2 linked regions of the Homo sapiens genome follow. The protein of the gene in region 1 interacts with the protein of each later gene in a pairwise test. Each region holds a gene or a part of one and is shown in the gene's direction. Other genes may lie near its edges.

Region 1 (3,752 bases):
AGTCCAAGATCAGGGTGCCACCATGGTTGAGTTCTAGTAAGGGCCTTCTTCACATGGCAGAAAGAAGGCGAGCTAGTTCTCTGACCTCTAATTGTAAGGGTATTAATTCTGTTCACGAGGGTTCCACCCTCACGACCTAACTACCTTCCCAAGGCCCCACTTCAAAATATCATCACACTGGGATTAGGGTTTCAACATACTCATATTGGGTGACACAAATGTAAGAGCTAATTCACTTTTTTTAGTGTTAATGTATATAAATACCATAGAACAGATGACTGTTTTCCAAAATTTGCCCTGTGGGTTAACATTTGACATACATGTGTCCCACACACACAGTTCCTATATCAAAAAGTGTGGGAAATGTTCAGTTGACTAAAGTAAACTAAGACAGTTTACTATAAGACTTCTCTAAGCCTTTAAAATATTGATATACATTATGATTTTCCAGGATGGAATACAGTATGAACTGTTTCCCAAATTTTTAACCAAAATACTTGTTGAATGAATAAATCCCTCCCCCTGCCCCTCTTCAATGGGAGCTAACACTGTCTATCTCTTGGAACTAGTATTGTGTGGAACACATTTTGGGAAATGTTGGAATAGGCCATTGGAATCTTCCAGTTTTGACACTACATATGATTCAGTACACATAAAAGTAAATCAAACTTCTTGATAGATTTTAAGAACATGGAAGTTTCCCAGATTTTCAGGTTACTGACATAAGCTCTAAATAAACATCGCATCATAAATGAAAATTGGATCTAACAGTTATATTACTAATACTTAAACAAAAATGATAATTTAAGAACAGATTTTTTTTTTTTTTGAGATGGAGTTTCCCTCTTGTTGCCCAGGCTGGAGTGCAATGGCACGATCTCGGCTCACTGCAACCTCTGCCTCCTGGGTTCAAGCTATTCTCCTGCCTCAGCCTCCCCAGTAGCTGGGATTATAGGTGCCTACCACCACGCCCAGCTAATTTTTGTATTTTTGGTAGAGATGGGGTTTCACCATGTTGGCCAGGCTGGTCTCAAACTCCTGACCTTAGGTGATCCTCCCACCTTGGCCTCCCAAAGTGCTGGGATTACAGGCGTGAGCCACCATATCTGGCCTTAAAAACATATTTTTAAAAGTTATATTTAAAGTTACGTTGCATATATTTATCATATCAAACTCACTTTAGCTTCCATGATCACATGAGATCAGACACATTCACAGTGGCATGGCTGTAGGCTCAAACTGATTTTAAAAGAATATTAAGGTGGTGGTTTGTCAGATTAAAGGCATATTCAGAAACATTCTTTTTTAAGGTCAATACATGAAAGAATACATAAAAGAAACCATGACTAAACAGAGTGCTTTGCAGTGGCTCTGTCACCCAGGTTGGAGTGCAGTGGTGCGATCACGGGTCACTGCAACCTCAGCCTCCTGAGCTTAAGTGATCCTCTTACCTCAGCCTGCTGAGTAGCTGGGACTACAAGCATGCAATGCCACACCAGGCTAATTTTTAAATGTTTTATAGAGATGGTAGTCTCACTGTTTTGCCCAGGCTGGTCTCAAACTCCTGGGCTCAAGTGATCCTCCTTTCTGACCTCCTAGAGTTCTGGGATTATAAGCATGAGCCACTGTGACCAGCTAGAAAGAAATATTTAATAGGGACTTACAAATAGAAGCTATGTCTGTGTCTATGATTGCAGCAAGACAAGATGGTGGATCCCCATGCCATTAACCCCCAGATCTTTAACCACTACAGTATATTGGATACTTAAGGAACTTTACACAGAACACTGACCATTTTGATTGTGCAGCTTGAAATTGTTCTAATCCTACTTTACTAACAAATAGGAACATAAGTAGTTTTGACAGAAAAAACAAAACAAAGTAATTGTAACTTTTAATATATTACAGAGATGAACATGATGCCATCATTTAAGGAAATCCATGGACCAAGGATGGAATACAGATTGATGCTGCCCTATCAATTAATTTTGGTTTATTAATAGTTTAAAACAATATTCTCTTTTTGAAAATAGTATAAACAGGCCATGCATATAATGTACAGTGTATTACGTAAATATGTAAAGATTCTTCAAGGTAACAAGGGTTTGGGTTTTGAAATAAACATCTGGATCCTTATAGACCGTTCATACAATGGTTTTAGCAAGTTCATAGTAAGACAAACAAGTCCTATCTTTTTTTTTTTGGCTGGGGTGGGGGCATTGGTCACATATGACCAGTAATTGAAAGACGTCATCACTGAAAGACAGAATGCCATCTGGGCATACAAATAAGAAGTTTGTCACAGCACTCAGGATTTTGGGTATCTTTTGTAGCTCACATAAAGAACTTCAGTGCTTTTCAGAGCTGGATATATCTTAATTACTAATGCCACACAGAAATTATACAATCAAACTAGATCTGAAGCATAATTTAAGAAAAACATCAACATTTTTTGTGCTTTAAACTGTAGTAGTTGGTCTAGAAACAAAATACTCCAAGAAAAAGAAAATTTTCAAATAAAACCCAAAATAATAGCTTTGCTTAGCCCTGTTAGGGATCCATTGGAGCATTAAGGAGCACATATTTTTATTAACTTCTTTTGAGCTTTCAATGTTGATGTAATTTTTGTTCTCTGTGTAATTTAGGTAAACTGCAGTGTTTAACATAATAATGTTTTAAAGACTTAGTTGTCAGTATTAAATAATCCTGGCATTATAGGGAAAAAACCTCCTAGAAGTTAGATTATTTGCTACTGTGAGAATATTGTCACCACTGGAAGTTACTTTAGTTCATTTAATTTTAATTTTATATTTTGTGAATATTTTAAGAACTGTAGAGCTGCTTTCAATATCTAGAAATTTTTAATTGAGTGTAAACACACCTAACTTTAAGAAAAAGAACCGCTTGTATGATTTTCAAAAGAACATTTAGAATTCTATAGAGTCAAAACTATAGCGTAATGCTGTGTTTATTAAGCCAGGGATTGTGGGACTTCCCCCAGGCAACTAAACCTGCAGGATGAAAATGCTATATTTTCTTTCATGCACTGTCGATATTACTCAGATTTGGGGAAATGACATTTTTATACTAAAACAAACACCAAAATATTTTAGAATAAATTCTTAGAAAGTTTTGAGAGGAATTTTTAGAGAGGACATTTCCTCCTTCCTGATTTGGATATTCCCTCAAATCCCTCCTCTTACTCCATGCTGAAGGAGAAGTACTCTCAGATGCATTATGTTAATGGAGAGAAAAAGCACAGTATTGTAGAGACACCAATATTAGCTAATGTATTTTGGAGTGTTTTCCATTTTACAGTTTATATTCCAGCACTCAAAACTCAGGGTCAAGTTTTAACAAAAGAGGTATGTAGTCACAGTAAATACTAAGATGGCATTTCTATCTCAGAGGGCCAAAGTGAATCACACCAGTTTCTGAAGGTCCTAAAAATAGCTCAGATGTCCTAATGAACATGCACCTACATTTAATAGGAGTACAATAAAACTGTTGTCAGCTTTTGTTTTACAGAGAACGCTAGATATTAAGAATTTTGAAATGGATCATTTCTACTTGCTGTGCATTTTAACCAATAATCTGATGAATATAGAAAAAAATGATCCAAAATATGGATATGATTGGATGTATGTAACACATACATGGAGTATGGAGGAAATTTTCTGAAAAATACATTTAGATTAGTTTAGTTTGAAGGAGAGGTGGGCTGATGGCTGAGTTGTATGTTACTAACTTGG
Region 2 (3,748 bases), on another chromosome or scaffold:
TGGTCCCTGTAGGAACCCTTGTCAGTTGACTGAGTGCTAGATGCTTTGTATACATTATTTCATTTTAATCCTCATGACTCTGGGATACCTATTGGGATCCCACTAGATGGATCAGGAAACTATTAAAATCATTCCCAAAGTGGTGCAACTGTGAAGTGCAGGGCCAGGATTTGGAGCTGGTCTCTGATTCCAGACCCTGTATTCTTTCAGCTTATCTTGCTCACTCCACGTTAATATTCCCCACGTGGGAAGAGGCATGCTAGGTAAAAAGAAGGCACCGCCCAGAGGGGCAGAGGATCCGTTCTAGAACAGTGTTGTCACATTGTCTGGTGGTAAGAGCAGCATTGGTGGTAAGGGCTCAAGGTAGGCTGTGGCCACAGTGCCAGGGTGGCAGAGGAAGTAGGAAGTAGGACTTTGGCGTCAGAACTGGTTTTGAAGAACTTAGTCAATTGCTGATGCTAAGTGGATGAACCTGAACTCTTGCAAGCGGTCTGACCTTGCACACATTCCTTAAACTCTGCTCTCTAGTTGCTTAATCTTGACAGATGGAGAAATGGGGAAAATGCCTGCTTCCTGGGGTTGTAGAATTAAAGTATTTAAAGTACTTATTGTCCTGCATGGTATGTAGTAGGCATTTGGTAAATGTTAGATTAGTACTTTTATTTTTGTTGTTTTTATTGTTAACACAAGATGTTTGGTGTCACAAGGGTTTGGTCTTTGTGCCGAAGGCCTGAAGAGTATTTGCAGGTTTTAAATACAGGAGCATGTGATAAGACCTGTGTGTGTGTGTGTGTTTTGGGTTTTGGTGTTTTTTTTTTTGAGACGGAGTTTCACTCTTGTTGCCCAGGTGGGAGTGCAATGGCGCGATCTCGGCTCACCGCAACCTCTGCTTCTCAGGTTCAAGCAATTCTCCTGCCTCAGCCTCCCGAGTAGCTGGGATTACAGGCATGCACCACCATGCCAGGCTAATTTTGTGTTTTTAGTAGAGATGGGATTTCTCCATGTTGGTCAGGCTGTCTCGAATTCCCGACCTCAGGTGATCCACTGGCCTCGGCCTCCCAAAGTGCTGGGATTACAGGCGTGAGCCACCGCGCCTGGCCAAAACCTGTGATTTAGAGAGCTCTGGTGACTGCGATGCTGGATTAGAAGGAGGAGCTAAGGACTAGAGGTTGTAGAGTAATTAGTGGAAGATGATGAGGGCCTGACCTAGGCTGGTACAGTGGTAATAAAAAAAAGAAATGGATGTCACTGCACGATAGAATAGACAGGACTTGGTGACCAGCGGAGTGTGTGGGAAGGTTGAGGGTGAGGAGACCGGAAGAGTCTCTGCAGAGTCTCTCGAGGATGCACAGGTGGATGGTGGTGCCTTCCGCTGAGATAGGACATCTGGGAGGATGAGCAGAGCCGATTTGGGGTGGAAGGCAATGATTTTAGGCTTGAAGTACCGAGTCGCGGGTGCCTGGAGTATATCCAGAGGGCAGAAAGCAAGTTACATCAAAGGGGTAACGAAGGTGAATGCTTCCCGAGGCCGGGTAGGTGATGTCAACAGGTCAGACTGAAGCAGACAGATGATCATTTTACCTGTGAGTCAGGTCAGGCTCCTTTCTGAAACGCCCGGATGGCTTCCCATTGCACTTACGTCAATTCCGCATTTCTTTCCATGGCCTGCAAGGTCTGATTTGAATTGGCCCTGCTTTTTTTTCCCACCTCATTTACTACACATTTTTCTCTCTGACTGTGTTCCAGCCACAGTGATCTTAGTGATTTTCAAGCATATCAAATTTGTTCCTGTGTCAGAGCCCCCTTCTCCCTGGCCAAGCCCTCGCCACCAGATGTTCTCCCACTGGTTCCTCATCAGGTAGCTCGTAGCTTGCCTGGTATCTCAAGGAAGCCTTCCTGCCTATACCGCCGCATCTGAAGAGGTTACTGTGTCCACCCTGTCTTGGGTTTTTTTCCATAGCACTTGTCACTACCTGAAATACTTATGTGCTATCTCCCTCCTTCCATTCATTCCATGAGGCCACAAGTGTGTTTTGCTCATCAGTATCTCTCATTGCCTAGCGTAGTGTTGGGCATGTTCCACAGCATGGAGAGCCAGTGCTTCTGGGCATTGCAGTAGGTACCAGTGAGAAAAAAGGGGAAAATCTGCATATTGAGTATTTATTAAAAAAAAAAAAAAAAAGGAGCCAAATGAGGAAGACAGGAGGAAGTTAAATGAGAGAGGAGACCAGCTATGATCATGACAGGGAAGTCAGTGGTAAGGTATCGCAGAGTGGTTGTCAGAGGGTCATCAAAGATTTGGCCCTGCTTGGGGTAATTGAAGTGTGCTAGCGAATCTAATTAGTCCTTGCGGTCAAGTTGCTGTGGGGTCAGCGAGATGGAAGGGTCACAGAACACTGACTTCAAAGGAGCAAATCCAGAGGGCCTGTGTGAGAGGAGTCTGATTGGGAGGCTCGTTCCTTTCACTCCAAATTACTTATCCTTTCAATCCCTTGACTTCCACAGGAAGCTCTTTTGAGGCCGGAAGCTCTTTTCAGGTGTTGCTCTCTGAAGATTTCTTTGAGCAGTTTTAGTCTTTATATTTTAGAAAAGATGAATCTCCAATGTAAAGTTGGGCAATTGATTCCAAGTCGGAAGCTTTAGGGATTGAAATGATAGTTCTAGTGAGGGTGGGTACCTGCTTTTTAACCTGGTGGGACTTGCAGCCGACTCAATACCTGGGCTTTCTGAACATTTCCTCGCGGCTTTCCTTTATCTGGAAGCGTTGGGACTTTTCGCCACGCATTGAGACTTTTCGGTTTTTCAGGCTTCTGCTTCAGTTTACCCAACCTCAGCAAACATCGTTTGCTTTGGAGAGGAACTTAAGGACTCAGCAGGAAATTGAAGATAAAATGAAAGGGTTCAGCTTCAAAGAAGACACTTTGCTGTTGATAGCTGAGGTGAGTGTATCCCTCGGGTTTATGTGAAACGAAGCATCATAGATATTTTCCCTGGCTCTGATAGCATTTTTTATAAAGCAGGGCCAAATTTAATCTACTGAAGGACTTGTCTCCCTCCTCTGTGTGCCTTTTGATCACTCAGCAATCACCAAGGCGGCCTCTTGATCGGCATTCCCCTGCAGCGTGCGGGACCGCAGGGGCTGTGTTTCATGTACTTGTCAGTGCTTGTTAGCACCTGCCTGCCTGAACATCATCAATGCCCAATAATTGTTTGTTTCAGTGCTGAATAAATGAATGAATGAATGCTTACATTTGTGTAGCAGTTCTATTTTTTTTCCTCCATTCATCATAACAGCTTGTGAAGTTGAGTAGAGCTAGAATTGAGGCTCAGAGAACTTGTGACTTGCCTGCGGTCAGATTTTCAGTGGGAGAGCTGGTCTGGAGCTTGTGTTTGCCAGCTGCAAGTCCATTTTATTCCTGCTCTACCCTGTTACTACTTTGATGGTTGCATAGAAATTCAAAGGTAATTTTTTTTAAACTAACATGTAAACCTTCATTAACTTTTTTTTTTTTTTGAGACAGAGTCTTGCTTTGTCTCCCAGGCTGGAGTGCAGTGGCACGATCTCGGCTCACTGCAACCTCTACCTCTTGGGTTCAAGCGATTCTCATGTCTCAGCCTCCCGAGTAGCTGGGATCACAGGCATGTGCCACCACGCCCTGCTAATTTTTGTATTTTTAGTAGAGACAGGGTTCACCATGTTGGCCAGTCTGTCTTGAACTCCTGGCCTCAAGCAATCTACCCACCTCGG

The links.
Region 2: the proteins of TMEM123 (region 1) and ZHX1-C8orf76 interact in binary tests that used the Homo sapiens proteins (3 or more experiments, as listed by UniProt).

What each region holds. Positions count from the first base shown.
Region 1 is NC_000011.10:102,397,048-102,400,799, reverse strand, and holds part of TMEM123 (porimin precursor), read left to right. Parts: intron 1-1,908; coding exon 1,909-1,933; 3' UTR 1,934-3,752. UniProt on the Homo sapiens protein: Implicated in oncotic cell death, characterized by cell swelling, organelle swelling, vacuolization and increased membrane permeability.
Region 2 is NC_000008.11:123,225,691-123,229,438, reverse strand, and holds the end of ZHX1-C8orf76 (zinc fingers and homeoboxes protein 1), read left to right. Parts: intron 1-2,806; coding exon 2,807-2,966; 3' UTR 2,967-3,248; downstream 3,249-3,748. Other genes in the region: uncharacterized protein C8orf76, read left to right, coding at 2,807-2,939.